Linked DNA regions of Homo sapiens. The protein of the gene in region 2 interacts with the protein of the main gene of each other region in a pairwise test. Each region holds a gene or a part of one and is shown on either strand. Other genes may lie near its edges. The genes, in order: PGRMC1, GOLM1, STRIT1 and SLC30A3.

Region 1 (7,077 bases), on a different chromosome or scaffold from region 2:
AGACCCTTTTACAATATAATTAAGTTCAACAAATATTTATTGCATGCCTACTATGTGCCAGACATGGTCTAGGGGCTTGAAATACATTGGTGAACAAAATGAATCTTGCATTCTAGCAATTTCACTCTTGCCAATTGTGTCAGAGTGCTTGTTTTACTCTGTGCTTGCCAACACCAAGTATTACCATTCTTAAAAAGCTCCAAGAAACAAGAGAAAAAAGAACACTCCAGTCATTTGAATGATGAGAAATGGTGCATTGTTTTTATGTTCCTTTGGATTTATTTGCTTCCTTACTAGGCTGAATTATTTCCCAAACATTTTCTAGCTAATCAGCCAATTGTTCTATTTTTCTCTGAAAGCTCTTTAAAACCTTTGAAAATAATTAAAAGGAGACAGAAAGTTTGAAAACACTAAAAGACTTAACATGTATCTTGGGAAATAAGTAGTCCTTGGGTCAAGTACATCGGCTTTAGGAATTGACTTGGAGCCAAAGAGCATATTAAGGCAACTCTCATGTTCTGAAGGGGGCTTTTTATTCAGGAGCACTCTTGCTTATTTCCAGATAACTTGAGAACTGCCACCCTGGAGGAGACCATTCCACTCAGCATTGATTCTGACATGAGCCTGAATGATGGGATGCTTTTCTTCAACAATCTCTACATCCCAGTGTTAGCTAATAGCCCACTTTATTGAACATCAAATCTGGTTTGCAAGCATTTATATTTTTAAACTGTATCACTTCTTGAGGTCTTAAGTTGCACAAGTTTTCTACCCTCCTTGTGAAGCAGGACTTCCTTTAATCCATTATCCTCCAAGGGGACACAGAGGTGTAGCAGAAGAGACACTGGACTACGATAAATGAGAATTATTAATCCTCCCCATCCCTCCATGAAAACACTTTCCCCAGATTTAATAGCGGTTACCTTTGAGGAAAGAGAATCAAGAGTGAGGAGAGGGACTTCAGTTGTCTTCTATATCTTCCCATAGTTTGAATTTTCTAACTTTAGACAAATATTACTTTGAAAAAACATTCCAGCAGGGGTTATCTGGGTGGGGAGCTAATGGCTTGGTTTTTGTTTTGTTTTTTTACTCTGTGTCTCTCTTTATTGGAAAAAAATGATAAAACTTTTATTATATAAAATTTCCCCCAGTTTTATAAAACAAAATGTGTGTGTGTGTGTGTGTGTGTGTGTGTGTGTGTGTGTATGTTGCATGTCTGCAAGAATATAAGCCAAACTGCTAATGTATGGGCCTGATTTAAGTACTGTTTGGGGAACTTGGAGAGGGAGAAAGGAGTTTCATTTTTTACTTTATACACTCACGTATTGTTTAAGTTTGTTATAGTGAACATGTATTATCATTCTACATTTTTTTTCAGAAAATAAATAATAAACCATTTTCCCCCCTGAGGTTAAAAGTGACACATGCCCATTGTGGAAAATGTAGAAAGGTATAAGGAAGAAACTAACAATCACAACAGTTAACATTTTAGCATATTTCTTTCCACGCTTTGTTTTATGAATTTTTTGACATAGTTGAGTTCATACTGTATATAGTTTTGTATCCTGTTTTTCCCTCAAGATTAAAACACAAGCGTTTTGCCATGTCATGATTTTTGGTAAAAGAATTTACCAAAACAGTTTTAGTTAAAAGAAGGTAGATTTATTAGATAAAGTAGGAAAATATGTTGTCAGAGAGACAAAGGGCAGCCTGCAAGAGAGAAGCCAACTGCCAGGAGACAAAGGCTTGCTGGAAATTTTATAGGATGGCGTTTATGCTGTCTGTTGAAGAGGTCTTTGTGTAATATTGATAATGCCAAGGTCGCAATGAGCTAACTTACAGGTGTCTGGTGATAGCTGGGCATGGGAAGATTGTGAATTATTTGCGCAGGAAGGCTGCATCTTGGTCATGAAGAAAGGGAGATTTGTAGCTTATTTGCTTTTTCTTTTTGCTATTTCATGCTCCCACCAGCCTGATTCCCTTTCCCTAATTAGGACTCCAGAATGATGATATTTGAATGGCCTTTTAATGGTTTTGTCACAATTCAAGTGAATTAATTCGCCATTTTATTTGAAGTCGGACATTTAGGTTGTTTCCAGTTTTTCTGTATTAAAAATGAATCTCTGCTGAGCATCTTAGTAATGAAATATTTGTCTGCGTTTCTGTCTCCTTGGGATGGATTCCTGAAAATGGAATTACTAGGTCAAAGAGCAGATTTCTAGAAGTGGGATTAATGGATAGAAAATATTTTTATGGATAATAAAAGGTTATACCCAACAGCGTATGTGAGTCTCACCACTCTCTCGCCAATAGTGTGTTATCCTTTTTTTTTTCCCTTTTATCTTTCCTGTAGAAAAGTAGTAGGTGACAGCGGCATCTCCATGCTTTTCTTTTTGTTACTAATGAGACTGAACATTTTTCATATGCTTATTCACCACTGGCATGCTCTCTTTTGTGAACTACCTGTTCCTATTTTTTCCCATTTATTGACTAGAATCTTATACATTTTCTTATCAATCCAAATGATCTCTCAAATAAATATTAACCCTTTGTCATATTAGTTGCAAATGAAAATATTTTATAAGTTTATTAGCTTTCTAAATTTTCTTGGCCATACATGTTAAAAGAGATAGATTCTAACTATAGACAAGTGCCCTCAGTTTGAGCCTGTTTCTCCATGATTAAATTGAAGAGTTTTGACAAAAGATTTGGAGGGGCTGTTTCAGCTAATCCCAAATTTAGCTCTGAGAAAAATGCCTGGGCCCGATACAAAGATTGTTTGGCTCATTGCACTTTATAATGATTTAAGAAGATGTGGGGGGCAGGGATGGAAGCAGTTTTTGCCAGAAATTTTTAGAATTCTGAGGTAGGAAGCCAATCTTTACTCAAGTCTCTTGCGTGTTGGGAGGAGGAGTAAGTTATGTGCAAGCCAACAGAACACTTGGTGGAAAAGTACTGCTCTGGGCTGCAGATGTGTGCACGGCTTGGTTTTAATTATTTGTTTCCCTCTCTATCCTTTCTTCTCCTCCCCTCCCCCCGCCACCAGAAAAAGGGCCAGATTAGGACGAGGCAACCCCTTCCTCCGTGGAGGTCTGCTTCTGTGCAGCCTGTTAGCACATCAAAGGCCGGATGAAATACCTAGGAAAGGAAGGGACCAGGCCTAGGATCCTTCCAAACTCCCGCCTTTGTCTGGGCTCCAGCTCAGGGTTATTGTGACTGCCAAGGGTAGCCTGACAGACTCCAAATAGAAGAACGCTGCCAAACAAAGAAACTTTCACATTATTCTGAGGGGGGAAAAAAGAGCAACAAGAGAACGTTGCTTGTTAATGCCTGGTGACTGAGCAAATCAGTAATTGCAAAAGGGTTTTTCGGAGAACAAACCCAAAGTTAACTGGGCGATCAGATTCGTTTCCCCAGATAATAGGGAGAGTTGTGCACTGACTTTAGCAATCCCGGGGGTGTCGGTCCCACAGCATCTGGGGGAGAATTGGGGAAGGGCCATCAAGGAGAGCGAATGGGGGTTCCCAAGGTGAAAATGAGTCGTGTAGGGCTCTAACATAGAAAATGGAGTTCGAAGAATGAGTTTCCTGTCTCCTAAGACAGCTTGGAGGGCCCGGGAACGGCAGGGGGAAGATGAGGGGCTTCAGAATGGGAGGCAGGGAAAAGCCTGCAGCAACAGAAAGGGAGTCGGTGTCTGGCGCGCATCAGGTGGCGGAGGGGCGCTCGCACAGAGCCCGGCAATGCCGAGGCCCTCCCAACGGGTCGGTCTGCGAGGAGCAAAAAAGGGGTTCAGAGGAGGGCAGCGCGTGCGTCGCGCTCAGCTATAGGATGGCGCGAGGATGGCGTGAGGCTGGGCTGGGGCCTCCCAGGTAGAACTGAGGGGGGCACCGCGCGGCCGCGGGGGAGCGGCGCCGGACTCTAGAGGCTTTGGAGGGGGCCTGAGGGCTGCGGGGCGGGACCGAGCAGGGCGGGGCGCTTAGGTGGCCTCGGGGGAGGCGGGGCTTGGAGGCTCCGCCCCTCAGGCCCCGCCTCCTCCCCGGCTAGTCTTTGGCCGCCGCCGAACCCCGCGCGCCACTCGCTCGCTCAGAGGGAGGAGAAAGTGGCGAGTTCCGGATCCCTGCCTAGCGCGGCCCAACCTTTACTCCAGAGATCATGGCTGCCGAGGATGTGGTGGCGACTGGCGCCGACCCAAGCGATCTGGAGAGCGGCGGGCTGCTGCATGAGATTTTCACGTCGCCGCTCAACCTGCTGCTGCTTGGCCTCTGCATCTTCCTGCTCTACAAGATCGTGCGCGGGGACCAGCCGGCGGCCAGCGGCGACAGCGACGACGACGAGCCGCCCCCTCTGCCCCGCCTCAAGCGGCGCGACTTCACCCCCGCCGAGCTGCGGCGCTTCGACGGCGTCCAGGACCCGCGCATACTCATGGCCATCAACGGCAAGGTGTTCGATGTGACCAAAGGCCGCAAATTCTACGGGCCCGGTACGCGGCCGGCGAGGGGGGCTTGGAGACAAAAGAAGGGGGCCCCGGCACGGGGCTGGGCGGGAGAGAGGCGAGGCGGGAGCGGGGCGCCCCTGAGTGGAGGGAGGAATGGCGGCGAGCTAGGGTAGGCGGGTAGGCGGGCAGGCGGAGAGCCGGGAGGCTCCCGGGGCGGGCAGGGAACAAGAGGCGCTCTAGAGGGGCTGCGGGCCAGTCAGGGACGCGGATCCCCGGCCCGCGCTGACAGCGCTGGGAGGGGGTTAGAGAAAGAAGGCTGAGGCGCTTAAGCCGGGGGTGGGTGGGACCACGAAGCTCGAAGGCGTTGAGGGGGGACACATCAAAGCCCAGGCTGTTGGGGTAGTTTTCGAAGGTCCTGGGCTTGGGGATTCCTGGAAGGAGGAGGGGGTAGTGTCGGGTTCTAGGAAGGAAATGAGGGTGTTCCGAGGGAGGCATGGGGGAGGGCGAGAGTGAGAAAAGGTCCAGACCTAGAGAAGACGGGAAGGCCAATGACACCGGGAGTAGGTTTGAAATATGAGGGTGTGGGAGAAAACGCCGAGACGGGATTAGCAGCAGGTAAAAGCTTTGTGCCCGGTGGATAGTGATGTGTGTGTGCACTCGTGGTGTGTGCATGCGCGGTGTGTGCGTGTTTAGTGTATGTGATTTATCAGGGGTGTGTGTGTGTGGTGTGTGCATGCGCGCTTGAAATGGGTCATGCGTCAGGTATGTGTGTGGCATGTGTTTGGTCTGTGTGCGCTTGTGCTGTGTGTGGCAGATGGGGAAAGGCTGGAAGGTGAACAAGGAGGAAGGGGGCTGTTTGAGGGAGGAATAAAGGCTGAATATGGTGGACAATGGTAACGTGGCAAGCTTTTAAGGTAATATGGTATTTAGTCTATAGCAGGAGAGAAAGGATTAGAAGCCAAGAAAAATTAAAATGGAGGGAGGGAGAAGTGGGAGGATACCAAGAAACAAAAGGAGTAGAGCTAAGAAGACTGCTGGGTGGGGGGATATCAGGAAAAGCCAACCAGAGGGAAATGAAGAATGGATGACTGCTGCACTGCTGAGCTGTTGGAGAAGGCAGGCCTGATGGGTTCCTTAGAGGCGAGGTTTTTGCAAACCTGGTTGCGTATCAGAATCACCTGATGCATCTGAGGAAAAATACAGATTCCCAGTCTAACCGCCAGAGCTGCAAATGAGTCTCGGGTGGTCCGGGAGTCTGTATTTTAATATGCTTCCCAGGCGAATTTGAAAAGCAGCCAGGCTTGCAAAGTCCTGCTTTATAGAATACTTGGAGATGAGGAAGAAGAGGTTTTGGCTCCTCCAATATGGACTCCTCTAAACACAGGGAGCTTAGAGGATGTCCACATGGACGGTGCTCATTCCACACTGGCCTGAGAGAGGGAAGAGTACAGAAGGCAGTACACAAACTCAGGCATTCATTTTAGTCTCCCAGTCCAACTGATCAAAATCAGATGTGTTAAGGTTAAGGAGCTCAGTTTTTTCTTGCAGACATTTATTTATTATAAAAAATAAATTTTATTTATTTTTTAGAGACAGGGTCTCCCTCCTGTGTTGCCCAGGCTGGTCTCGAACTCCTGGGCGCAAGCAGTCCTTCCACCTCCATTTCCCAAAGTGCTGGGATTACAGGCATGAGCCACTGCACCGGGCCTGTGGATATTTTAGAATACCTGCTTTCTATAGGCATGTAACTGTCAAAATCATTTGAAAACCACATACATTATTTGTCACTTAGAGTAGCACACATAGTTGCTTTATCAATAAACATAATCATGTAAATACCTGTTAATATTGAGCTCAATATTAAAGGAGTGAAAACATGTGCATGAGGCATCATCATGACTGTAGTTTGCAGAGTCATTGAGAGGATGTCAGCCTGTGCACAGAGCACAAAACTGGGAGTCAGGCAACCTGCGTTCTAGTCCTGATTGGGTCATGACTAGCTGTGTGACCTTGTGCAAAGCATTGTTCTCTCAGAGCCTTAGTTTTCCCTCTGAAAAGTGATAAAGATGGCCTATTGTGAGATCTCTGTCTCTATCTTGCACTGTCATTCAGTGAGCCCATGACTACGTGACATCTTGGTAGAAAGTGATGCTTCATGTTGTAAAGGATTCCTAAAAATTAGTCATTCTAGTGCCTGTTAATTCTGTGCAAGGCACTGTTGTAGATGTGGGAATATAGCAGTGAGCAAAACAGACACAAATCTCTGCCTATGGAGCTTACGTTCTAGTGAATATATGTTGCACTGAATAATATGTATTTTTAAAAGACTTTTAATGTTCCCACTAGAGAACATTTAATTGTTTAAATGTTTAAATATTCTATGAGGTTTAAATATTCTATGTTTAAATATTCTATGAGGTTTGCTTGGTAAAGACTCACTCTACCAAGCCAATGACCATAATTTCTGAAATGGTAAGGTTCAAACCATTGCATTTGCCTATTCTCAAGCACTAGGTGCTGCCATTTCCACTAGGGGTGTACATTTATGAAAAATGTGGGCTTTTTTTTACCTTCTTTAGTGAATGTGGCAGCATGTAATGATGATTAAAAATAAGCATTTTTCTTTGGAATTTTACTTGCAT
Region 2 (7,232 bases):
AATGCAAACACAGGACAGCAAAATACCGTGGCTGGCAAAGCTCTATACTGAGTCAGCCTTGCATGAGATACCTCATGAAGTAGAAACTATGCTGATGTAATCAGATCTGACAAGACACAGGCCCAAAATACTTAAAATTAAGAGAAAGAGTATTTAAAACAGGGTTTCTACCTCTAATGTTGTTAACAAATCCAGCCCTATGTGTATATTGGGCCTTGAGACACAATATAACCATAACAGCAAATACATGTAGTTTATAAATAAGCAACAAATGCACATACAGAAGAGTGTTAAAAAAGTTTTTTTATTACTAAGAAACATCAAAAAAGTTGGGAAACGATAGCAAATTACAATATAAACAACTATAATCATATTATATAGTATTTATATATGTACTTTTTTCTGTCAGGCACTAATCTTCAAAATCTTAGCAAGGGAAGTCCTACTAATAAAGTGCTTAAGGGTTTTAAAGGAAAATAAGACCAAAATGTAAAAATCTGAGAAGGCATGGACTTTTTTTTTTTTTTTTCCTGAAAGTGTGAGAAATATCTGTGTGAAAGAAAGGAAAGACTCTCTGGAAATTTAAGAAACACTTCATAAATTTGGAGACAAGTCTCTCTTTTAATGTAACTTCATCAATAACGTGAGAAGTCCAGAAAACCACCATGATCTTTAAGAACAGTTTTTGGGGAGCAAGTGAAATATCATTCGCCCTTTTCTAAGGTGAGAGCAAAAGCATAGTAGCACCATTCCTTCTGTTCCTTCTACTTTTTTACAAATGTTTAAAAAATTGTTTTGTTTTACAAAAACAGAAGTGCTTTTAAAAAATCCCAATTACAAATGTTATTTCTCACATTACGTCACTGAAAAAGAAATGTATCTTTTTTCATAGGGCAACTTATTTTTTTTTTATTTCAAGAAAAAACAAGTAATAACAATAATGCTGCAGAATTTAAGCCAAAGGCACAGAACACCGCTCCCCCGCCCCCAATGGCCACCCCAGGTCCTTTGAGAAAGGCGGCTGGACCTCAGGGACCACGCTGCCTTCAAGCTCCCTCCCACCAATAGTGCCCATCAACTGACACCTGTCTTCTTCTCAGCACACCTGCCTAAAGTGATGCTCCACCCTTCCTACTGATCCACGCAGACGCATTTTCCCCAGGTTCTGCCCTCTGTACTTCCAATGCAGAAAGCCAGCTCGCACTTTCACAGGATAAGGGTAGCAGTTCCCTCCTTCCTGGGGAAGGTGGCCATATATATATAAACCCGGGTAGCCCTGGGCCTGCTATGGTCAGCTGTCCTAACTGTTGTTTCTGCCCAGCCCTCAACAACAACAACAACAGCGGGTGGAATGTAAATGCAAAATCTTTTCATTTCCCATCAATAACTGGACCTAAACCAGCCATTAGAAAGCAGATGGTATCCCTGGCCCTTAATATCCAAGTCACCACAATTTCCTGGCCCCACCCTCAGCACTACTTTCCTCTCATTTCTTTCGTTTTCCTGTAAAACCAACTTTAAAAAAAAATGTGAAAATTGGATAACCTCTCCATAGGAGAACAAAATGTATCTTAAAAGCTAACCTCTTTTCTTTAACCATCCTAACAATTCAATTTTTGTTCACTGACACCTTAAGAATTGAGTGTCTGGCCTAAAAACAGTAAGTCTTAGCAAGTTACTAGTTTCTATTAAGAAAGAAAGTAATGAGCTTAGCTTCATCTTTTATAACACAACTGGAAGAAGCTAGGATGCCTTTGGAGACCCACAAAAACTGACAAGAGATTGTCCCATGCCCTCCAAAATTCAGAAATACTAAAACTGAGATTTGAGCCAACCTGATGGCCATGAGCTAAACAAAGCCACTCAAGCGCTGCTAAATACTTCATCAGGTTATTGTGTATCTCACTAATCCAGCCCTAGAAATGTTCCTCAATAATGTGCATAATGTAGGGCCTAGGGACCCCAAATCAGACAAAGAAAACCTCAAAATCGTGAAAGTCACACAAGTTTAGTTTTGCAAATCTGGCTATGGGACATCTGAAATTGTCCAGCATCATCATGGTATTTCAAATATAATAATTCTTAAATTTTGCTAAAAAATTTCATCAAAATTGTTATTCTTCACATTTTGTTTCTTAAAAGCAAATCATTAAAAATATTAAATGGGATATGATTTTTACAGCAGGGCAAAGTTGTGTGGATCCTCCACGTTGGCAAAGGTGGAAACACAGGTATGCGAGAAAACCCCGAGCATCCACGAGAACGGGATGCAGCCGCGCTCTGGACGCGCGGCGGGAGGACCCGGAGCCCAAGCTCCGGGGTCACCAGCCACGAGGCCCAGCGGCAACGTGGACCCCAGGGCGGCCGGAGCGCGCCTGGGGCTGGAGGGGAGGAAGAGGCGGCGGGAGCCGAGAGACTCGCGGCTCGGCCAGCCTCCCGCGCCTGGTGCAAATCACGCTGCAGAACTGGAACTAGTGCGACTTAGGGGGTGCACGCTTTTGACTTTGGATGCCGACGCGCGTGACAAAGCTCAGAACAAAAAGACAGGCCCCGCATCGCCTGAGACTGCAGGGCAGGGAATCCTCGCGAGGCCCCTCATCGCAGGGCAAGGGGGCCGCGCGCCCGGTCTTGGGGAGCGAGCCGAGGGGCCCAGGCAGCCGCGGGCTACTCGGTGCAGGAAGGTGCGGAGCCAGCCCCGAGCGCAGCCAGCGAAGGTTGCAGCCCCGGCGCAAGCCGCGGGGAGGCTCCGGGGACCGACGCGAGGTCTCGGCGCGCGGGGTACGGGCCCTGGGCAAAGGAGGGAGGAAGCGATGGACCGCGGTTCGGGCAGCCTGGGGCCGCGCGCCGCCCACTCACCTCTTTTCGAGGCTCCGGCCGCCACTCGGGGATCCGGGGCCCCGCTACGAGGCCGCCCGGGTCGCTCTCCCGCCGCCGCCGGCCTCGAGCTCCGGCCGGCTCCGCGCCGTGCGCCCAGCGCCTCCGCGTCCAGCGCCGCCGCGTCTCCGGCCTCCGCAGCGGCAAGGCCCCGCCCCCGAGCAGCGCCGGCGGCGCGAAGGGAGGAGGCGGCGCCGCGAGCGCGGAGAAGCGAGGCAGGGGCTGCCGGGGCCGCGCGGACTCCCGGCCCCACGGTGCGCGCGCCCCGGCCGGTGGCCGCCCCTCGGCGGGAGCAGGAACGCCAGCGTGCGCCCAGTTCTCGCCGCTGGGCGTTGCCCCTTCCCCCGGGCCACCCCATCGCCCCTTCCGACGCGGGAGCTGGCGCCTGAGCAGCGACGCGGAGCGGGGAAGCGGCTGTGGGGAAAGGGTACCTGGGGGGAGCCCCCATCCCACGTTCCGCCCCGAGGGAATGTTCCCGAACAGCCAACCGCACCCAGCGCCACACTCACGTTACCTTCTTTATAAAAGTCGTCGGGTCAAAACTGCCCAGAGAAGGAAGCGAACGAAAAACAGGTTTTTAGGGGGCTTATACTCACAAAATTGTCTTTTTTCTCCCACGAGGCATTCCCTGTTGACCATCATCTCGCCTCGGTTGTCACCGCTCAGGCCTTAGTGTTTGGTCTGTGACCCTTCCACTGCTAGCAACGGAAAAAGTGAAGATTCCCGGACGCCTTCGGGTGTGATCTTATAGCCCGGGCAGCTGCATTTGAAACAGCGCCTCAGATGACGCTCAGGCGCACTGATGTTTGAGAAGCCCTATGAGGCCGTACCTCCCGGAGAGAATGCCACAAAACTAGTGACCTACAGGGAAACCATGCTAGAAAATTCTAAAGCAATGGTTCTTAACTCTGGCAGCACCTGCCATCCATTAGAATTATTTGGGGAGCTTTTAGAGCATTTAGGAACCAGGGTCCCACTTCCAGAGTTCAAAGTGAACTTGATATTTTTTGTTTGTTTTGAGCTTCCCAGATAATCCTAATACAGTATACGGCCAAGATTGAGAACAGTTTTCCTAGAATCATGTCTTCATGTCTTCCTAGCTCTGGTGTCTGGGAAAGGAAACTCCTTCCTCTGCGCCTCTCTCAAATCACAATAAAAAAACAAGTAAATACATGAACACCTAAAGGAATGCTCACAGCTGAAATTGATTTTAACCAGAACAAAGAGTCACCTTAAAAAAGGTGATCAAGATACCCTATTGCTACCTGAGCATGGAGCTTCTTAACTGCAGGAAACGTATCTTTACCAGCTAAAACCTCTTAGCTGAATTAGAAGCTGACCATACATGACCCCTTTAGAGGAATGTTCTACTATATTCCAAAATGATATTTTTGTTATCTGCAACTGTTAAACTGTTGTAGGGTCAGACCAAAGCATTCAGAAGCTGAGGCTGTATCAGATGTCAGCCCTGGTTTTGCAGACTTAAGTTGTGTCACTTTGATCTTCTAGTGAGCTTAAATAACCATAATCGGGGACAGGTACAGGAAATTCCCTTTCTTGCCCATTTTAGCTCTCTTAGTATAGTTTACATTCTTAGACTGGTGGACTGTAACTTCTATATCATTTGGCTCTAAGGAGGGTCTCCATTAGTCTCTCATTTATCAGCAACTAATTAGCGACTCACTCAGTGATTCTTAAACACTTTATGGAACAGGTCCATATGTCTAGGTGCTAAGGCAGCTGGCTGAATGAGCTATATTTTAATTGAAGATGAATTAGTCCTTTTCGTTAGATTCTTTATGACAAAAGTTGAAAATTTTAAGATGCAGTTTTATATATATCTATATACATAATTTACATTCCTTATAAAAAAGCTAATCAGTTGCTGGCCCTGAAAATTCAATTGGATGGGTTTTGATTAAACAATGTGCAAGGGGCTACAGTGGTTGGTTGAAGGAAGCATCCATGTTTTGCCTGTTAAGCATCCTTTCCTTAATGTCTTAGTCCATTTTGTGTTGCTATAACACAATTCCACAGACTCAGTAATTTATAAAGAAAAGAAATGTATTTCTCATAGTTCTGAAGGCTAGGAAGTCTAATATCAAGGTGCTGGCATCTTGCAAGGGCCTTCTTGCTGCATCAGCCTGTGGTGGAAGGCAGAAGGGCAAGAGGGTGTATGTGAAATTGAACTTGCAGCCTCAAACCCTCTATAATTGGCATTAATTTATTTATAAGAGTGGAGCCTTTATGACCTAAACACCTCCCTTTGGGCCCCACCTCCCAACACTGTTGCACTGGAGATTCAGTTTTCAACACGTGCTTTATGGAGCACACATTCAAACCATAGCATTCTGCTTCTATGCCCCCCACCACCCCCAGTTCATATCCTTCTCACATACAAAATACATTTATTCCATCCCAACAGCCCTAAAGGCTTTAATATTTATTTATTTATTTATTTATTTTGAGACAGGGTTTCACTCTGTCCCCCCGGCAGAAGTGCAGTGGTGTGATCATGGCTCACTACAGCCTCAACCTCCTGGGCTCAGGTGATTCTCCCACCTCAGCCTCCTGAGTAACTGGGACTACAGGTGTATGCCATCATGCTCAGCTAATTTTTTTGGTATTTTTTGTAGAGATGAGGTTTTGACATGTGGCCCAGGCTGGTCTCAAACTCCTGGGCTCAAGCAATCCACCTGCCTCAGCCTTCGAGAGTGGTGGGACTACAGTCATGAGCCACTGCACCTGGCAGCCCTAAGGTCTTCACTCTAGCACCAACTAGAAAGTCCAGAGTCTCATCTAAATCAGATATGAGCAAGATTCAAGGCACAATTCATCCTAAGACAAATTCCTCCAGCAATGAGCCTGTGAAATTAAAACAAATTATTTACTTCCAAAATACAATGGTGGCACAGGCACAGTATAGGTATTCACATTCCCAAAGGGAGAAATATGTAAGATAAAGGGGTAACTGGTCCCAAGTAAGTCCAAAACCCAACAGGGAAAAAATAACATTAAATCCCAAAGCCTCAGAATAGCCTTTCTTGACTATATCTCACCTTCTAAGCATACTAGGGTGGGAGTTGGACCCCCAAGGTCTTGGGCTGCCCCATCTGTATAACTTGGCTGGGTGTAGTCATGTCACAGAACCTCATGGTTTGTAGTCTCATGTCTAAAGCTCTTCCAAGCTGTGTTGCACACTGGTAGCTCTACAGTTCTGGGGGCTCTGGGACAGCCCCAACCCCACAGTTCCATTGGTCATTGTCCTAGTGGTGGTTCCCTGCTATGGCTTTGCTTCCATGGCTCCACTAGGCATTTCCCTGGTAGGGAATCTCTGTGGCAGTTCTGCCCCTACGGCAAGTTTCTGCCTGTATCCCCAGGCTGTCCAGTACATTCTTTGGAATCTAGGTGGAGGCTGCCATAGCCCCATAGCTCATGAACTCTGTGTACCTTCAGAATTAGCACCACATGGATGCCGCCAAGGCCCACCACTTACACCCTCTAGAACAGTAGCCTAAGCCACAGCTGGGCCCACTTGAGCCACACAGCTGCAACAGCTGTGGAGTGCTGTGCTGGAAAGCGGGGAGCAGATACTTGAGGCAGTGCCTGGTAGCAAATGCTGAGGTCCTGTGGCCACGTCTCTGGAAACCTTGCCTTCAAGGTCCTGCTCTGGGCCTGTGATGGAAGGGGCAACCTAAAAAATCTCTGAAATGCCATTGGGGTCTTTCTTGTCTTGATGAATAGCACCTGACTCCTTTCTAGCCATGGTAATCTCTTTAGCAAGGGGTCCACTGGACTATATCCCTACAAGGACTTACATCTTTATGAGGCTCTCCCAAACATGCCTTTGCACTCTTGGCCAGGCTGAAAATTTTCAAAATTTTTTTCTGCTTCCTTTTTAGTTATAAATTTCATCTTTTAATCATTTATTTCTTCTCTAATTTTACTGTAAGCAGCCAAAACAATCCATGCAACACCTTGAATGCTTTACTGCTTAGACATTTCTTCTGCTAGATATCCTAGTTCATTGCTCTTAAATGCTGCCTTCTTTTCTCTAGCTTACCTTATTGTAAGAATACAGTTTATAATACATATAACATGCAAAATATGTGTTAACTGTTTATGTTATCAGTAAGGCTACCAGTCAACAGTAGGCTATCAGTAGTTAAGTTTTGGGGGAATCAAAGTTAAATGCAGATTTCCAACTGTGCAGAGATGGGGGTGTCCCTAACCCGTAGATTGTTCAAGGGTAAACTGCATGAAATAAATTGAATTGAACAGACTAAAAAGTATTTGCTGTAAATATCTTGCTGTGTTTGCTTTCAGTATCCATTATTTCCTTTCTCAGGTACCAACAT
Region 3 (7,587 bases), on a different chromosome or scaffold from region 2:
ATTCACTCATAATTTCTTATTGTCCTGAAGAAATTCTTATGCATACCAAAGTGCCAGTTTATGATCCAAGTTTGTAAAGTGATGTCAAACATTGCATTGTTTAACATGAGACATTTAATAATCAGTCATGTTCATAGTTTTCTTAATTCTTCTAAATGATGTCAATCTGATATCTTCTTGCCTGAAAGACAAAACATTCCATTAGTAAAATAGAAAAGATTGTTTCTGGAGTAATTTAGACTATAAATAAACATTCAATTATTAAAACCCTTACCTTTCTAAGAGAAGACAACATAAATCATTATGATGCAGCCCACAATCCAGCCAATCAGGAGAAGAATAGGAACCAGAAGGTGTGAAAATGTAGACCCCGCTTTAAAATAAACCGTAGAAAACAGATTATATTGGTCATTTTCATATTAAATTTTCTGTGTCAAGAGAATAAAAGGAATTTGGTAACATTAAGAAAAAAGCATACACTCTCTAGTTATACCCATACATAATTATTTTTTCTTTTCTACAGAGAATACGTGAGACTGTCATAAACCCTGGGTATTTTGAATCAAACCATGGGTCTTTTACTGTTATGTGACCTTTGGCAATTCTGGGCTTGAACTTTCCTACTGGTAAAATATGAATAATGAAACTTGTGCTCTCTACCTCCTGGAATAGTTTTGAACATCAAATGACATAACATATGTGCAAAGCTTTGTAAACTCTAACCACCGTGTGTGTTTAGTGTATACAGAACACATTCATGCATTTGTGCAATAACATATACAGCAGCTATTTATATAAAAAACAATCTAATACAACTCTGAGGCAATTCCCACTAAAGTAAATAATTATAACACAAGGAAAGGTATTGAGAACTGTCCTTGGCCTCAATAGCTGAATGTAATTTTAAATATCACAGGGAAAAGGAAAGTATCATACATTATGTAACCATTCTTGACTACAGAAAAGAATTTCTATTGTTTAAAAATTGTTCAGTATAACAACCAGCACTGAACCTGAATCAATGGGCAGTAATAATCCAACACACACATAAATGGCGTTTGTTATATATGATTCCTTCTGTGCCTCCTATTTGTACTCTTACCTGTAAAAAGCAATTTATACAAGTATCTTTTTTAAAGTATGCACTGCATGTAACTCTTGTTCTTTCAAGCAAACATACACAGGCATACACACAGAAATCCACACCTACATCACACAAAAAGATTTAGAAAGAGCGCAGAAAAACATTCTATGGAATTAATGTCCCTGTGTTAAGGACTCAGATATATTCTTAACTGCAAAGCATAATTAGATCTTATGCCATTAGTTAAAAGAGAGAATGCATATTCTTAGCAATTATACTCCTATTACAATTTCCATCACTTTAAAATGTGAAATTTTTAAAAATGCTATTAAAATAAAATCATCAGGAGATGAGACACATTTAAAATTAGAAGACACTTTTATAAAAGCAAACTTTCTGAAGTTGAAATAAATTTTAATACTTTAAATCAATTTTTCCAAGAATGCTAGAGTCTCTCTTAACTGACAAAATTCAACATGCTTTTCTTGTTTCTCCATCTCACTGTGACCTTGTATAAGGCATTAAGCACTAAATGGAAAACTCTTCTCTTTACTTGACATGTGGTATTGCTTAAGGATAAAGCAAACAACATGAGTTGCCCTTTACTCTCATTTGGACGAAAGCCTTTTTATGAATTAAGGTACCATTACAATGGAAGTACATAGCAGTAATTTTTTTGAACTGTCTAGGTATGTGGCTTTATATTTTTCCCAATTTCAAAGAATTTGAAAATTAATATTAACCCTTTAATTGTGCATTTATATTTTATACATGCATATTTTAATAAAATTTACATATCACAAAGCCCTAAAAGTATCTCATTATTTACTTTCCTTGTAAAATAGTACCAGTAGCACTAACTGTGCATTTTAACACCCAAAGTATACATTCCATTGTTTTTTTAACACTAATGTTTTCAACTTTACTAATACCTGTGGAATTGTTTGGAAGTAGAAATACGTAAGAGCACAACATACTTTGCATATGTCACTTACATTACTAGCACAAATAAGAACAAAACATCTCTTAAACATGAAGTGTAATTCTAAAATGCTTCTCTCTTGTCCAGTTCTGAGCATATCAAAGTAGTTACAGCTGGAAGTGTTCTTGAGGACACTGTGCTCTGGAAAAGACTGTCCAGGTTAAACACCTGGTGCCACCACTCTTTAGCGATCATGAACAAGTTACTAAACTGCTGTGTCTCCATTTTCTTATCTATAAAATGGGGATGATGATGATATGCATATTTCACAAGGTCATTGTCAAGATTCAAAGCAAAAATTCCTGTTTAATATTTAAAAACCATTTCTTAGATACAGTATATATTCAACTTTTTGACAAATTGGAATCAATTATTTTATATAACTATAAAATATAAATACAAAAAAATGTTTAAAAACCAGAAAAAAGTTAGATGTGGAACAAAAATTTTAGGTGTGGAATAGATGCCTGAGCCCAATATTCTCATTTTACTGTCAGAAAACAGACTCAGAGAGGTATAGGGACTTCTGCAAACTCACATAGCCATTTACTAGCAGGTCTGACACAGAACTTAACTGTCTTCAATTCTGGCTCAGAATTGAAATCAGGAGAACTGATTTCTAACTCACCTTTCAAAATAAGTATTAACAAAATTAAGCTCTTTTCCTTTGTTGATCATTTTAAAATTATTCATAACCTATAGACCTGATCCATAGATTACATAATTAATGCATTTTTGCAGCCACACTAACATATATGGTTAATGGTCATTTAGCATAGATATCACATTTTTTAGAGTGACTGGGAAACACCAAGAAACATAAATGAACCAAAGTCAAGAAGCCTTTTTTTTTTTTTTGCCAAGAGAATCCTATGCCTTAAATCTTACCTTTTTCAGCCATTATTCCTGTTGGTGGGTGGCTAGGTCAGGCCACGCTTACCTCTTTCTTTTGTTATCCAGCGTCTCTTTGAACTTTAAATAGAGAGAAATCTGAAGATTGCGGCAGCTGCCCGTCTCCTGGCTGCCAATTGTCTGCAGAGTGATGTAAGTCATGGGAAAGCAGAACTCCTCTGGCTCTTTATTCTATTATTATGGAGGAAACGAGGGGCTACATGACCTAAACAATTAGGTAAGCTGAATTATCCTAATGCAGATATTCGCAGGTTTTTAATTTGCACCATGCCTTTAGGTAACATGAAGAAAATGTTCTATAAAGAAGGTGTACAGAGGAAAAACAACATTCCACCTATACAAGTGCTATCAAGGAGAAGGGTGATATATTAGAAAGAAAGGATTTTGATGTTGGAGAGACTTGGGTTCAAATTCCAGCTCTTTCTGTAATGAAAGCCAAGTTGCTTAACCTGGGAATCAGCTTCTTTAGTTTTAAAATGAGGATAATAATACCTACTCATGGGAGTCGCATAAAGATGAAATGAAAGTCTGTATGAAATGTAGACAGTTCTTTATTACTTTACAGGTGGAAAACATAAAATGAAATGGTGCCCCTTTCTTTGAACTATTCTAAAACAAAAAGTGTTAATATAAATGTACTAGAAACTAAAACAATACAGACGTCGCCTAGAATTTTTAGGAAGCAGTCATAAGCTTGTTGTTTTTATTAGCAATGTATAAAAATAGGACATTTCATTTTTCAAAGTCCAAACTGGTTTATGTAACTGACCTAGACTATTCTCTATATTCTCATTGGAATAACTTTAAATTGGGGATCTGGCTGGAAAAGTTTTGCAGAGTGACCCTGTGAGCATCTTCCCAAAAAAAATTTGACATAAGATTAAGACCTGTAAAGGCAGGTCTGGCCTGATCAAATTTATCTCCACAGAGTTCCAAGAGTGATATTGCCTTGCAAATGACCATGTTCCATCACTGCTCAAAAATCCACCAATAGTTCTTCATCTCCTAGACAATAAAAATCCCAACTCTTTGTTTAGACACCTAAAAACCCTTATTTCTCTACTCTTCCATTTGCAGTGATAACTTCAGTGACACTGAACTCCTTGCTATTATATGAATTCAGAATCCTCCCACTCTCACAGGCAAGAAGAACATTTGACTTTCTACCTCAAATAATGTACCTATAGATTAGAGTGTGCAGCCAAGAATCTGGCACATTTATATCATTTATGTCAAGTTGTCATCTCTCTCCTCAGTCTCTCTCTCAATATATTATTTAATATTGAAAAAATGTCTGGCTATGTCAGGTAAGCAGAAAAACTACGTATTGTTTATGCAACAAAATCCCTTGCTTACCTGGCAAAGTTGGGTATTTTTTTCAATATTAAATAATAATACGTTAAACAAAGGTTAACTGAGGCCAAAAGAGAGAGAAGAAATAAAAATGTTATTGATCTCATTTAAATATAAAAAATGTTAATTCAGTAAGTTCAAATGAACACTAATTATCTTAAGGAAAAAAATGATATTTAAAACAAACAGTGTGGTACCCACAAAGAGCACAAACATACATAATAAAATAAAATAATTTGCCTGAAACATATGAAAAGGTTTCTACATTTTAAATACTCATTTCCATTTCAATTATATTAAGCTTTCTTCTTGACATGAAATTGACTATTATTAACATTATTGCTGTCAATTTGGAGTTTGAGGAGGGATTAGTTTATAATTCATCATTTATTTTCCTTACTTTTCTATGGAAAGAAGAAGAGAAAAAACTAACTTAATCAACATGAATTTCTCAGACTTCAGAAAAGAATTCAACCTAGAATCTCATTTCCTTGGTTATATCATCAGTAAATTTTTTAAAAAATATAAGTTTTATAATATTTAATCAGGAAAGGATGTTTTATTCATTAATAGACTGGTTTCACTTTGAGCTTATAAACCCAAGGGCCTATATTTGACCGTTTTCTAATCTTTCTCTTAGGACATACTAATTAGGAACATTTTCTACTTTTTTACTTTACATACTGTCTTAAACATTTAGCTCTCAAATCCCTTATTCTCAAGGTGACATTAGATTCTTCAGAGATATGTGAGCCGAAAAATTTAAATATTTGGTTTTTCTTTAAAATATTTAAGAATTCTTCACTTTTCAAATATTTTTCACTACTAATGTCTGGAATTATAGTACATAGACCTGACCATGGTGGATGCTCATGGATCTTTGCTTCATGGCTGGCTGACTGGGTAGGTGGATGTAATAAGTGCAGTATAAGGTAGCTTAGTTTGCACTCTAAACAAAGGTTTACTTATGGCAATACCTAAAAGAGTAATAAGAAATAAAATGATCTTAACTATACTCTAGCCTTATAATATATGCATATATAGATAATACAGTGTATTTAATTACCAGTAACATTAGAATAATCTATAAATAAGAATATAAACAAATAAAAGAAAGTGACATCTGCAAAAATAGAGGAGTGGGGGACTCCAAAATATCTTTCCTTCATAAGAGCACCAAGAAAGCCATCTAAAATTTTTGAATCAATTTTTAAGAATTGTAGAAATTAACCAAGGACTTACAGCAACTGGGGGAGCTGGAATCTAGGTAAGAACAGCAAGAGTTTTGTGATGTTTTAATTTGGCCTATTCTCATCTCCCCCATCTCCAGCTTTGTAGCAGCCTTAAACAATATCCCAAAATCTCAGTGAAAACTAGCAGACTAGCAGCCACCAGAGGAGACAGAGCAGAACAGAACTCTTTCAAAGTCTCAGTTTCAGAGAACAGTAATTATTTAAACTGTCTGGTGGTTCTCCCAAAGACCTCACCTGCAAGGCTGTCTTTATTTGATAAGACTCAGAACTTCCACTGTGTGAAAAGTACCCACTCCCAGGGCATTTGTTGAAAACAATTAGAGGCAATTGTTTAACATCACAGCTGCCTAGGTAACAGAGTGAACAATAGGCTAACTAAAAAGCTTAAAAGGAGAATCTAGGGAATGAGATGTCAATAGGGGTTTGAAAAGTTTCACATATCCTTAAGAATCTAGAAGGCTACATGCATATGTTCAGCTATGGGCATGACCTCATGGCTGTGGGTATGCTTAGGAAAGACCTGAAAAGGCCCTAAGCTTTCACCTCTGGCTAACCTTGAGGCTCAAAATGGAAAGCAAATGGTAAGGCAGTTGTCAACTGCCTGGCTGAGTGTTAAAGGCATACCTCAACACATACACAGAGCCCATCATTAAAGTCTGGAAGGCATACTAGTTATAGGCATTTAAAGAAATCATTGTCCAATCATTAGTTGATAACTAATCTAATTGAGCAAAAATTTTAGTGGTCACATACAACAAAGAATGCAAATTGTACACAATCAGTTCAGAATAATAACAACAACAAACAGCAATGACAACAAACTCTTGGGAGGAGGTAGAATCTGATTTAAGAGTTGACATTATTTAAAACTACTAACTTTCAACAAAAAAAAGTTATGAGATATGCAAAGGAACAAAAATGTATGCCCATACAAAGGGATAAAAAAACTATCAAAAATAACTATTTCTGAGAAGGTCTATAAATTAGACTGACTAACAAAGACTTTATGTCAGCTATTTTAAGTATTTTCAAATAACTAAAAAAAGCAAAAGAATGCCATCTCAGCAAAGACAATATCAGTAGCCAGATAAATACTATTTTTAAAAGAGCAAACAAATTCTGAAGTTGAAAGGTGCAATGACTGAAATGAAAATTTTACTAGAGGCTCAACAGCAGATTGAGCAGGCAGATGAAAGAATCAGTTAATTTGAAGGCAGTTTGATTGAGATTATCCTGTACAAGAAACAAGAAGAAAAAATAATAATGAATATGGCCTTAGAGATCTGTGGGACACCATCAAGCATATCAACATATGCATAATTAGAGTCCTAAAAGAAGAAGAGAAAGGGCAGAAAAAATATTTGAATAAATCATGGCCAAAAGCTTCCCAAATTTGTGAAAAATGTTAACGTACATATTCAAGAAGCTCAATTAATTCTAGGTAGAATAAACCCAAAGAGACCAATACCTAGACACAAAATAACGGTCAAGAACCAAAGACAGGTTGGGTGCAGTGGCTCATGCCTATAATCCTAGCACTTTGGAAGGTGGAGGCAGGTAGATCACTTGATGTCAGGAGTTGAGACCAGCCTTGTCAACACGATGAAATCCCATCTCTACTAAAAATACAAAAATGAGCCAGGTGTGGTGGTACACACCTGTAATCCCAGCTACTCAGGAAGCTGAGGCACAAAAATCACTTGAACCTGGGAGGTGGTCATTGCAGTGAGCCAAGATCACACCACTGCACTCCAGCCTGGGCAACAGAGTGAGACTCTATCAAAAAAAAAGAAAGAAAGAAAGAAAGAAAGAAAGAAAGAAAGAAAGAAAGAAAGAAAGAAAGAAAGAAAAGAAACAAACACAAAGAGAAAATCTTGAAAGCATCAAAAGAGAAATAACTAACTCACTATATGCAAGGGATACTCAATAAGATTAACAGCTGATTTCTCAATAAAAGACATGAAGCTCAGAAGGCAGTGTTATGACATTCAAAGAAAAAATAT
Region 4 (7,973 bases), on a different chromosome or scaffold from region 2:
AGGGAAGGTGGAGTGAAGTGTGGAGTGGGACTCAGCATGTGTTCCTGGCCTTGGTGTGCCTCCTTTCCAGGCCCACCTCCCAGAACCTCCACTCCTGGATCCTGCCCCCGCCCTCCCTAGACATGAAGCTGAAGTGTGGCCCTTTAAGAGACGAGCGGGACATTGGGGCCAAAAAGTCTGATTCCGGGCACAGAGAACTGATGGCTAGATTCCAGAGCTGGGGTTGTCATGGGAGGAAGGGGTGCAGCCTGCTATGGCTGAGGATGGCAGTGGGAGGAGCATGTTAATTGGACTTCAGTCCGACTATAAGCACCCAGCAGAGCCCACCTTAACTGCATGGTACCATAAGTCTCCCTTGACAAATGAATGGGGCTTGGGACCTCACCTGGGGATGCCAGAGGCTGAGTGAGGTCAGGCTGAGTGCTAAGTCCATTCTGGTCCAATTCTCAGCCCCACCACTACCCAACCTGAACCCAGCAAGGACAGAATTTTCCACAGAATTCAGGACCTGAATAGAAAATACAGTACTAGAAATACTCATGGAGGTGTGACAAGAATACCCACAAGTAAAAACGATGGCTCCAGATAGAAATGTGATCATAGCAGCAAAGTGGGGCGGGATGTCTGGGGCCTTCTGGCTAAAGACAATTCTGCCAAGTGGGTGAACTGAGTTTTGAGGGAGGTAGGGGGAACATTTGGTGCTTGTACAGAGAACTGAAATACTGGTAGATTAATTTCTTGAATTTCCAAAGCCCCATCCAAGACTTAGAATCTGGGCGTGTATGATTCTGGATGTGTTTCCAGAGGAGATGGCGTGGTGAAGGAGGCTGTGAAACCGATCCTCATTCATTCAATGAGGTGCACCAGGCAGAGCACACATAATGAAGCCTGGTCTGGTGGGAAAGACAGATTGTAACAAATGGCTTACTACATAAGGACAGGTTGATGCTAGGAGGGTTATGAACAAAGCACTTTGGGGTGCAGGGAAGGGAGCACTCCCTCACAGCGGGCTCGGAGAACTTCACAGAGAAAGGTATGTTTAAGGAGATGAGACCTAGTTGGAGAAGGGTGTTCCAGACATGTAGAATGACAAAGACGAGGTTTGTGGCTTGGAGTCTAAGCGTGAAGTGTCAGGGGAGGGCTGAGGAGGAAAGTGATGGGCTCAAAGGAACATAAAGGGAGATACACTGACTGCTTGAACAAATATCTCCTGAGCACTGAGATGACCTTGCTGATGGGAGGAAGAGAGGAGAAGAGAGGAAATGGAGGGGTCTAGAACAAACCAGGCCAGAGCTTCCCTGGAGGGGCAGGTAGGTTAGGAAATGCCTTTCAGAAAATGCTGCAGGATTCGGTGACTAATGGTCATATGAGTGAAGATGGACTGGAGTTGGAGATGTGAGTCTGAAGCGCAGAGGCTGGGTGGCTTTGGGGGCAGTGGGCAACATTCATTCCCTGGCCTTGTAAGGCACAGCACAGCCAGTCATCAAGGTGGCCACCCATCAACAGGCTGCTCCCTTTTGTTCTGCATAATTTGGGCACTAAGGAAGCCTGGCTGTTGGTGTGTGGGGGTGTGGGCATGTGGGGTGGCTACATGCTGTTTAGAGACAAGGAAAGGCTGTTTCCTCTCCCTGGCCCTCCGAAACCCCCAACCAACAACCGATATTGAGCGGGGAAGAGGGGTGACGTAGCAGGGGCTGAACCAAAATCAAAAGGACACCTGAAGAGATGCCAGGCCTACGGCAGAGCCCCCACCGCGTCTCTGCAGGCCCCTGCAGGAAGGGGTCCAGCTCTCTTCTGCTCACCCCCTCCCCCAACCCAGCTTGAAGGCCCCCACCCAAAGAAAGAGCGAGAAGCACACAGAAGCACCACGTCAGAGACAAAGGGAAAGGGACTAGGAGAGAAACAGAAAGATTGAGAGAGGTGGGGGAAGAGAAAAAGCCGGAGACCCTGCCAAATTCCGGAGACAAACGGACGGTCAGCCGACAGACAAGATGGCCCACGGGGGTGGGCAGGGAGGTCGGACGGCCGCTCAGAGGGGCAGGTGGACGGTGGCGGCAGGCGCGGGGGCCGGCGGGGCGCGTTGGCGGTTCTCCTGCCACCCCCGGCCCGCTGTCCCGGCCGCTCCGCGCGCCTCATTTCACACCTCGCCGCCCCCGGCCCCGTCTGTGCGGAGCCGGGAATACCCCCGCTGCCCAGACCGCACCTGCTCCTTCCTCGCCGCCCCCTCGCTTCCCGGCGGCCGCCCGCCCCCCAGGGGCCCGCAAGACCCGCGCGGAGCCCGGCCCATCCTCGGGCCCCGGCGCCCACAGCTGGCCGCGGCTGGAGGGGGCGCGCGGAGGGGAGCCCCCGGGGCCTACAGAGGGAGCTCTGAAGCCTGGGCAGCGAGGCGCTCCCGCCCTGGGCCCGGGGCAATGCGGACCTTGGCGCACCGGGCGAGGGCTCCGGCCCGACCGAGCGGCAGCTGCTCCCAGGGAAGGCAGGCGCCGCGGGGGTGGCGGAGGGGTCCGGCGGCCTGGGACGCCGGCCGGAGGGGAGTGAGAGGCCGCTTCACCCGAGGAAGTCAGGCGGCCGGGAGGAGGCGTAGCCGGCTGTGTAGGGCTGGGCGCTCCGTGTGGCCAGAGGGGATGAAGCGGGGTGCAGCGGAGCGAGGGACCCGCGGTGCGCTGGGGCGGCCGCCGGGGCCCGCGCCGAGAGAGACAACGAAATGGACGGAGGGTAGTAGGGTGGCGCCCCCGGGCCGAGGGCCAGCCCAGGTCTGTCCTACCTCTTCAAACGCAGGCTGCCTCCGGCGCCACCGCGGTCCCGGGGGCTCACCAGGCGAGTGGTCTCCAAGCCCCCAGCGGCTGGAGAGGGCTCCATGTTCCCGGTGCCCCGACCGTCTAGGCCCCACCGAGGAAGAGAGAGGCCGGGCCGGCCCCGCGCCAAGTCCGAGCAGCCCGCCGACCCCCGGGATCCCCGCAGGGCGGCGGGGCCACCAGAGTGGAGCGAACTGCAGCGACTGTGGCGCGCGGAGTCCGAACTGCAGATCCCGCTGCCGCCGGAGCCCCGCCCCGCGTGGGGCGAGCTCCCCAAGCTCCGCCTCCAGGCTCCCCGGCCTCTCCCCACCCTTAAGCCCCGCCCCCACTGCCAAAGCCCCATTTCCCCGCGCCAGAGCCCGGGAGCGCCCCGCCACCCGAGTTCTGGAGAACTCCTCATCTCCACAGCCCCGTCCCCCAGGCGAGCTAGCCCCACCTCTGCACACAGTCCCGCCCACCGGTTCCAAGCCTCGCTCCTGAAGCCCAAGAACCTCACGACCAACCTTCGCCCAACGACCACCACTCTGTGCATGCCTGCGCGGGGGTGTCGCCCACCACGCCGTCACCCTGTGGCCGCAACCCTCACGCGGAGGCAGAAACAGGAGCGGACCCATTACCTATCTCCAGAGAACCAGAAAGAACATGAGGTGAGCGGTGACACAGGGAGATTCCAGGGACTCCAGAAACCCCTTTACGGAGAATCTGGGGTCGGAATTCACGAGCCCAGTCTGCTGCCAATCACTGTACCGCGAATGATCATTTATTTTTATACAGAAACATTGGGTGACAAGCTTCCTGCTCTCCTTCAACCCACTGTTATCCCTGCTTTTCAAATGAGTAAACTGAGACCCAGAGGAAGAAGAGTCCAAGGTCATGCAGGCTGTGAATAAAGGGCCCGGCCTGGACCCCCATCCTCTTTCCCTCCCCGGCTCTGGACGCCGCACTGGCAACTGGAGAGCGCTCACAGTTCTCTTACGGGCGGGGGTCCAGTGAAGTCGAGCCGCCTATCTGGTGTCACGGCCACTGTTTATGGAGAGGGGCTGAGGGGCAGCGGGGCAGCGTGTCAGCTAGTGATTCCCATCCTCCACACCTGCAGCGCCCTCCTGGACATTACCGCATTCTGCCTCATTTGGGGGAAACTAAAACCCAGGGGAGGGAGCGACTTACAGCAAAGTCGGTGGCCGAGCCTCAAGTCGAAGCTTCAAATGCTCAATGTTCTCTCCCCTCGCACCTGCCGCCACTGTAGAATGGGAGGGGGTGGGAAGAGGATTGTGCACTCGAAGCTGTGACAGTCTGTGAAGAGGAGGGTCCGTAGGAGGAGGGGAGCGAGTGAGCAGGGATGGGGAAGCGTGGAGGGTGGGAATGGTTAGTGAGCCCAGGCAAGAAACTCATCAGCCGCATCCTTCAGAACACACTGGGCGTCCTGAACTTAGGCTTCTGGGGACAGACACCTACCCTCGATATTGTTATTCCAACGAGCCCAAGAGTGCACTTGCAAAAAAACAAAACAAAACAAAACAAAAACGGGAGCACGTGCCAGATACAGTGGTTGGAAGTGATGGGGTTAACCCGGGAGAGCTTCGCGGAGGAGGTGAGGCTTAAACGGATTAGGAAAGCTGGGCGGCGGGCTGGCTGTTCCGGCGGGGGAGAGTGTGGCTTGGCCCGTGCCAAGGTGTGCGGGCGGCGCGTGCGAAGGGACTGTCCTGCGCCGCTGCTGCAGAGCGGCACGGGAGAGCCACAGGGGCTGCGCGCGCCCTCCGCGCCGTCCCCACCCCCGGCTGCGCCAGCCTCTCCTCCGCGCCAGCCCCCAGCCTCCCCAGTCCAAAGCCCATGAGGGGTGAGGGGGTAAGGGAGCGAGGGGGTCGTTCTCCCTCTAACCTCCCTTTAAGGCGCGGGACTTGACGGACCTCTGTTTCTCCTCGGGTCACAGGGAAGCAAATTGAGGCGGCGAGAGCAGGAAACCACCGGCCAAGTTCACCTTTTCGGGCTACTTATCAGAGCCAAGGTGGAACCCAAGTCCCTGCTTAGCTATGCCAGGGCTCTGGGTACGTCGGGCCCGGCGCCGTCGGTTTTCTAAGCGTCGCACCCATCCTAGGGCTCTCCCCAATTCTGAGAACCCTGGAGCTGGGATGCGCAGCGGCCACCGCGCACTCCGCGGCTCGGATGCGGCAGCCTGGCCCGTAGTGACCCTGGCGGGTGAGCTCGAGAATGGGGAGAAACTGCGGGGTCCTATGCGGGGAAAGGGATTCTTGGCACGGCTCAGCCGATGACGACAACAGGGGACATAACAACAATGGCTTCCTCCGGGATTTCCCTTCCCGGGCAGCCCGCGCGGCCAGCAGCACCGAGTGCCAGGAGGGGGCGCAGACGCCCTCACGTGCCCTGCCCGCCCCTGCCGGGAGCCACCAGGCGGGGAAGGCAGAGGCGCCTCGCAGCGCGTGGCCAAACGTGCCGCCTCCAGAAACCGAGGGCGCCGGCGGTGGGAATACCAACCTTCACTTGAAAATTTATGTAAGGAAAGCTTGGCGGCGAAACAGGATGCTTCCACCTGTTCCTCAAAGAGCTATCAAATGGCCCTGTGAACATCTTTGCAAAGGGTCCTCGCGAATGCCAGGCCTCAAGTGCGATTCTCTGCACTGAGGTCAGGATTTAATCTGGGCTGGAGATTTCAGGCAAATTTTAAAATGTAAGCATGTGGACAAGAGTTAACACCTGACAAGTGCAAGCCAAGCTGAAGAGCATGGACAGAGGAGGCAACCTGGAGGTCCAACTTCTACTCCATGCTCCACTCAGATGTCACCTCCAGGAAGCCTTTCCTGACTTCTCCCAGACTGGGTATGTGTCCCTCCCTGCTTCTCTCAAGGCTCACACTGTGCTTATCTGATCCCAGCACTCACCTCATGGTGATGAAGTCCTTTGCTTGTCTGTCTCCCTGCTACAGGGCAAGCTCCCTGAAGGCAGGAATTGTTTCTTTCTCATCTGTGTCCCCAAACCCCACTAATGGCTGCCACACTGTCCTCAATTAAGCCATCCCAGAAAGGAGGAGCTAGTTGAGTGGAAGCAGGATGGAGGAGGTAGGATTTTAGCTGGTCACAGGGAGAATGAGGGAGGGCAACAGCTTAAATGTCACTGCCTCGGGGAGGCCTTCTCTGGCCCCCACACTAAGTTAATTCTCATGTCATACACTCTCATCGCACAATACTTTTTCTGTTTTGTTCTTTTTTTTTTTTTTTTGGAAACAGGGTCTCACTCTGTTGCTCAGGCTGGAGTGCAGTGGTACAAACATGGCTCACCACAGCCTCGACCTCCTGGACTCAAGTGATCCTCCTGCCTCAGCCTCCCAAAGTGCTGGGACTACAGGTGTGAGCCACCATGCTGGGTCAACACACTGTTTATTTCTTTCAGCACTGATCATACTGTAACTAAATTGTTACTTGGGAATTATTTGTTTCATCATTTGGCTTCCAGGCTACCATAATCTGGTTTTCCTCCTACTTCACTGGCTGTTTATTTTCAGTCCCCTTTGCTGGTTCCTCCCCACCTTCTCAATCTTTTCTTGCTGAATTAGCCTAGGCCTTGGTCACTCTCTTCTCTTTTCTTTCCACACTCACTCCCATGGAGCTATCATCCAGTTTCTGGTCTTTAAATACTATCCAATAACAGCAGAAAGTAATGATTGTTGAAGCTAGATTCTGGGTACATAGAGAGTCACTGTACCATTCTCTCTATTTTTGTATGGGTTTGAATTTTTCTATTAAAAAGGATTAAAAATAGCCTGGCTGGTGGCTCACACCTATAATTCCAGCACTTTGGGAGGCCGAGGCAGGCAGATCACTTGAGATCAGGAGTTTGAGACCATCCTGGCCAACATGGTGAAACCCCATCTCTACTAAAAAATACAAAAATTAGCTGGGTGTGGTGGCATGCACCTATAGTCCCACCTACTTGTGAGGCTGAGGCAGGAGAATCACTTGAATTCGGGAGGCAGAGGTTGCAGTGAGCTGAGATTATGCCACTGCACTCCAGCCTGGATGACAGGTGAGATTCCATCTCATAAATAAATAAATAATAAATGTCATGTGTTTGGTGGTGATTCTCAGATCTCTCACTTGGACTCCAAACTCATATATCCACATGTCAGCTTGACATCCCTTCCTTATTGTCTGGTAGGCAGGCCTATCAAGCTCCATAAGTCTAAAACTGAGCCCCTGATTGTCACGCCATCCTGAACCTTCTCTTTCTGCAGTCTTCCCATGTCAGAATATGGTAACTCCATCCTCCCATCTGCTCAGGCCAGACATCCTAGGGTCATCCTCGACTCCTCTATTTTCACTCTACATCCAAGCTGTCAGCAAATCCTGATCCCGCCCTTGTCCAAACCACTATCATCTGTCTTCTTGATTACTGCAATAGCCTCCTCCATGGTCTCCATGTTTCCATCCTTACTGCCTTATAGTCTATTCTCAACCAAGCAGTTAGGTAAACATAGATCAGATTTGTCACTCCCCATCACACTCAGAGTACCAGCCAGAGTCCTTCTAATGGCCTGCAAGGGGTCCTACGGAATTTAGCTCCTCTGATCTCATTTCACACTTCTCCCACCTCATTCCCCAGCCATCCTGGCCTTCTTGTGAGTCCTACAACACACCAGGTATGCTCCCACCCCAGGGCCTTCACATTTGCTTATCTCACCAGCTGTAATGCACTCTGCCAGATGTGCTCATGACCTACCTCCTCACATGCTTCAGGTCTTGACTCAAATATCACCTGGCCAGGCCCTCTCTGCTTGTCCGTTTAAAAACTGCAACCTGACTGGATGCGGTGGCTCACGCCTGTAATCCCAGCACTTTGGGAGGCCGAGGTGGGTGGATCACCTGAGGTCAGGAGTTCGAGACCAGCCTGGCCAATATGGGGAAACCCCGTCTCTACTAAAAATACAAAAATAAGCCAGGCGTGGTGACATGTGCCTGTAATCCCAGCTACTCTGGAGGCTGAGGCAGGAGAATCACTCAAACCTGGAAGGCGGAGGTTGCAGTGAGCCGAGATCTTGCCACTGCACTCCAGCCTGGGCAACAAACAAGACTCCATCTCAAAAAAAAAAAAAACTCAAAAAACAAAAAAACACTGAAACCTCTCCCTAGACATTCTCTATTTCTATTCCTTGTTTTATTTTTCTCC

What was found.
Region 1: the proteins of GOLM1 (region 2) and PGRMC1 interact in binary tests that used the Homo sapiens proteins (3 or more experiments, as listed by UniProt).
Region 3: the proteins of GOLM1 (region 2) and STRIT1 interact in binary tests that used the Homo sapiens proteins (3 or more experiments, as listed by UniProt).
Region 4: the proteins of GOLM1 (region 2) and SLC30A3 interact in binary tests that used the Homo sapiens proteins (3 or more experiments, as listed by UniProt).

The regions. Positions count from the first base shown.
Region 1 is NC_000023.11:119,232,212-119,239,288, forward strand, and holds the start of PGRMC1 (membrane-associated progesterone receptor component 1), read left to right. Parts: upstream 1-4,073; 5' UTR 4,074-4,152; coding exon 4,153-4,480; intron 4,481-7,077. UniProt on the Homo sapiens protein: Component of a progesterone-binding protein complex. Binds progesterone. Has many reported cellular functions (heme homeostasis, interaction with CYPs). Required for the maintenance of uterine histoarchitecture and normal female reproductive lifespan.
Region 2 is NC_000009.12:86,096,555-86,103,786, forward strand, and holds the start of GOLM1 (Golgi membrane protein 1), read right to left. Parts: upstream 3,005-7,232; 5' UTR 2,857-3,004; intron 1-2,856.
Region 3 is NC_000003.12:155,290,666-155,298,252, forward strand, and holds the start of STRIT1 (sarcoplasmic/endoplasmic reticulum calcium ATPase regulator DWORF), read right to left. Parts: upstream 3,019-7,587; 5' UTR 2,968-3,018; coding exon 2,955-2,967; intron 374-2,954; coding exon 279-373; 3' UTR 275-278; intron 182-274; 3' UTR 1-181.
Region 4 is NC_000002.12:27,260,048-27,268,020, forward strand, and holds the start of SLC30A3 (probable proton-coupled zinc antiporter SLC30A3), read right to left. Parts: upstream 3,001-7,973; 5' UTR 2,860-3,000; coding exon 2,765-2,859; intron 1-2,764. UniProt on the Homo sapiens protein: Probable proton-coupled zinc ion antiporter mediating the import of zinc from cytoplasm into synaptic vesicles and participating to cellular zinc ion homeostasis in the brain.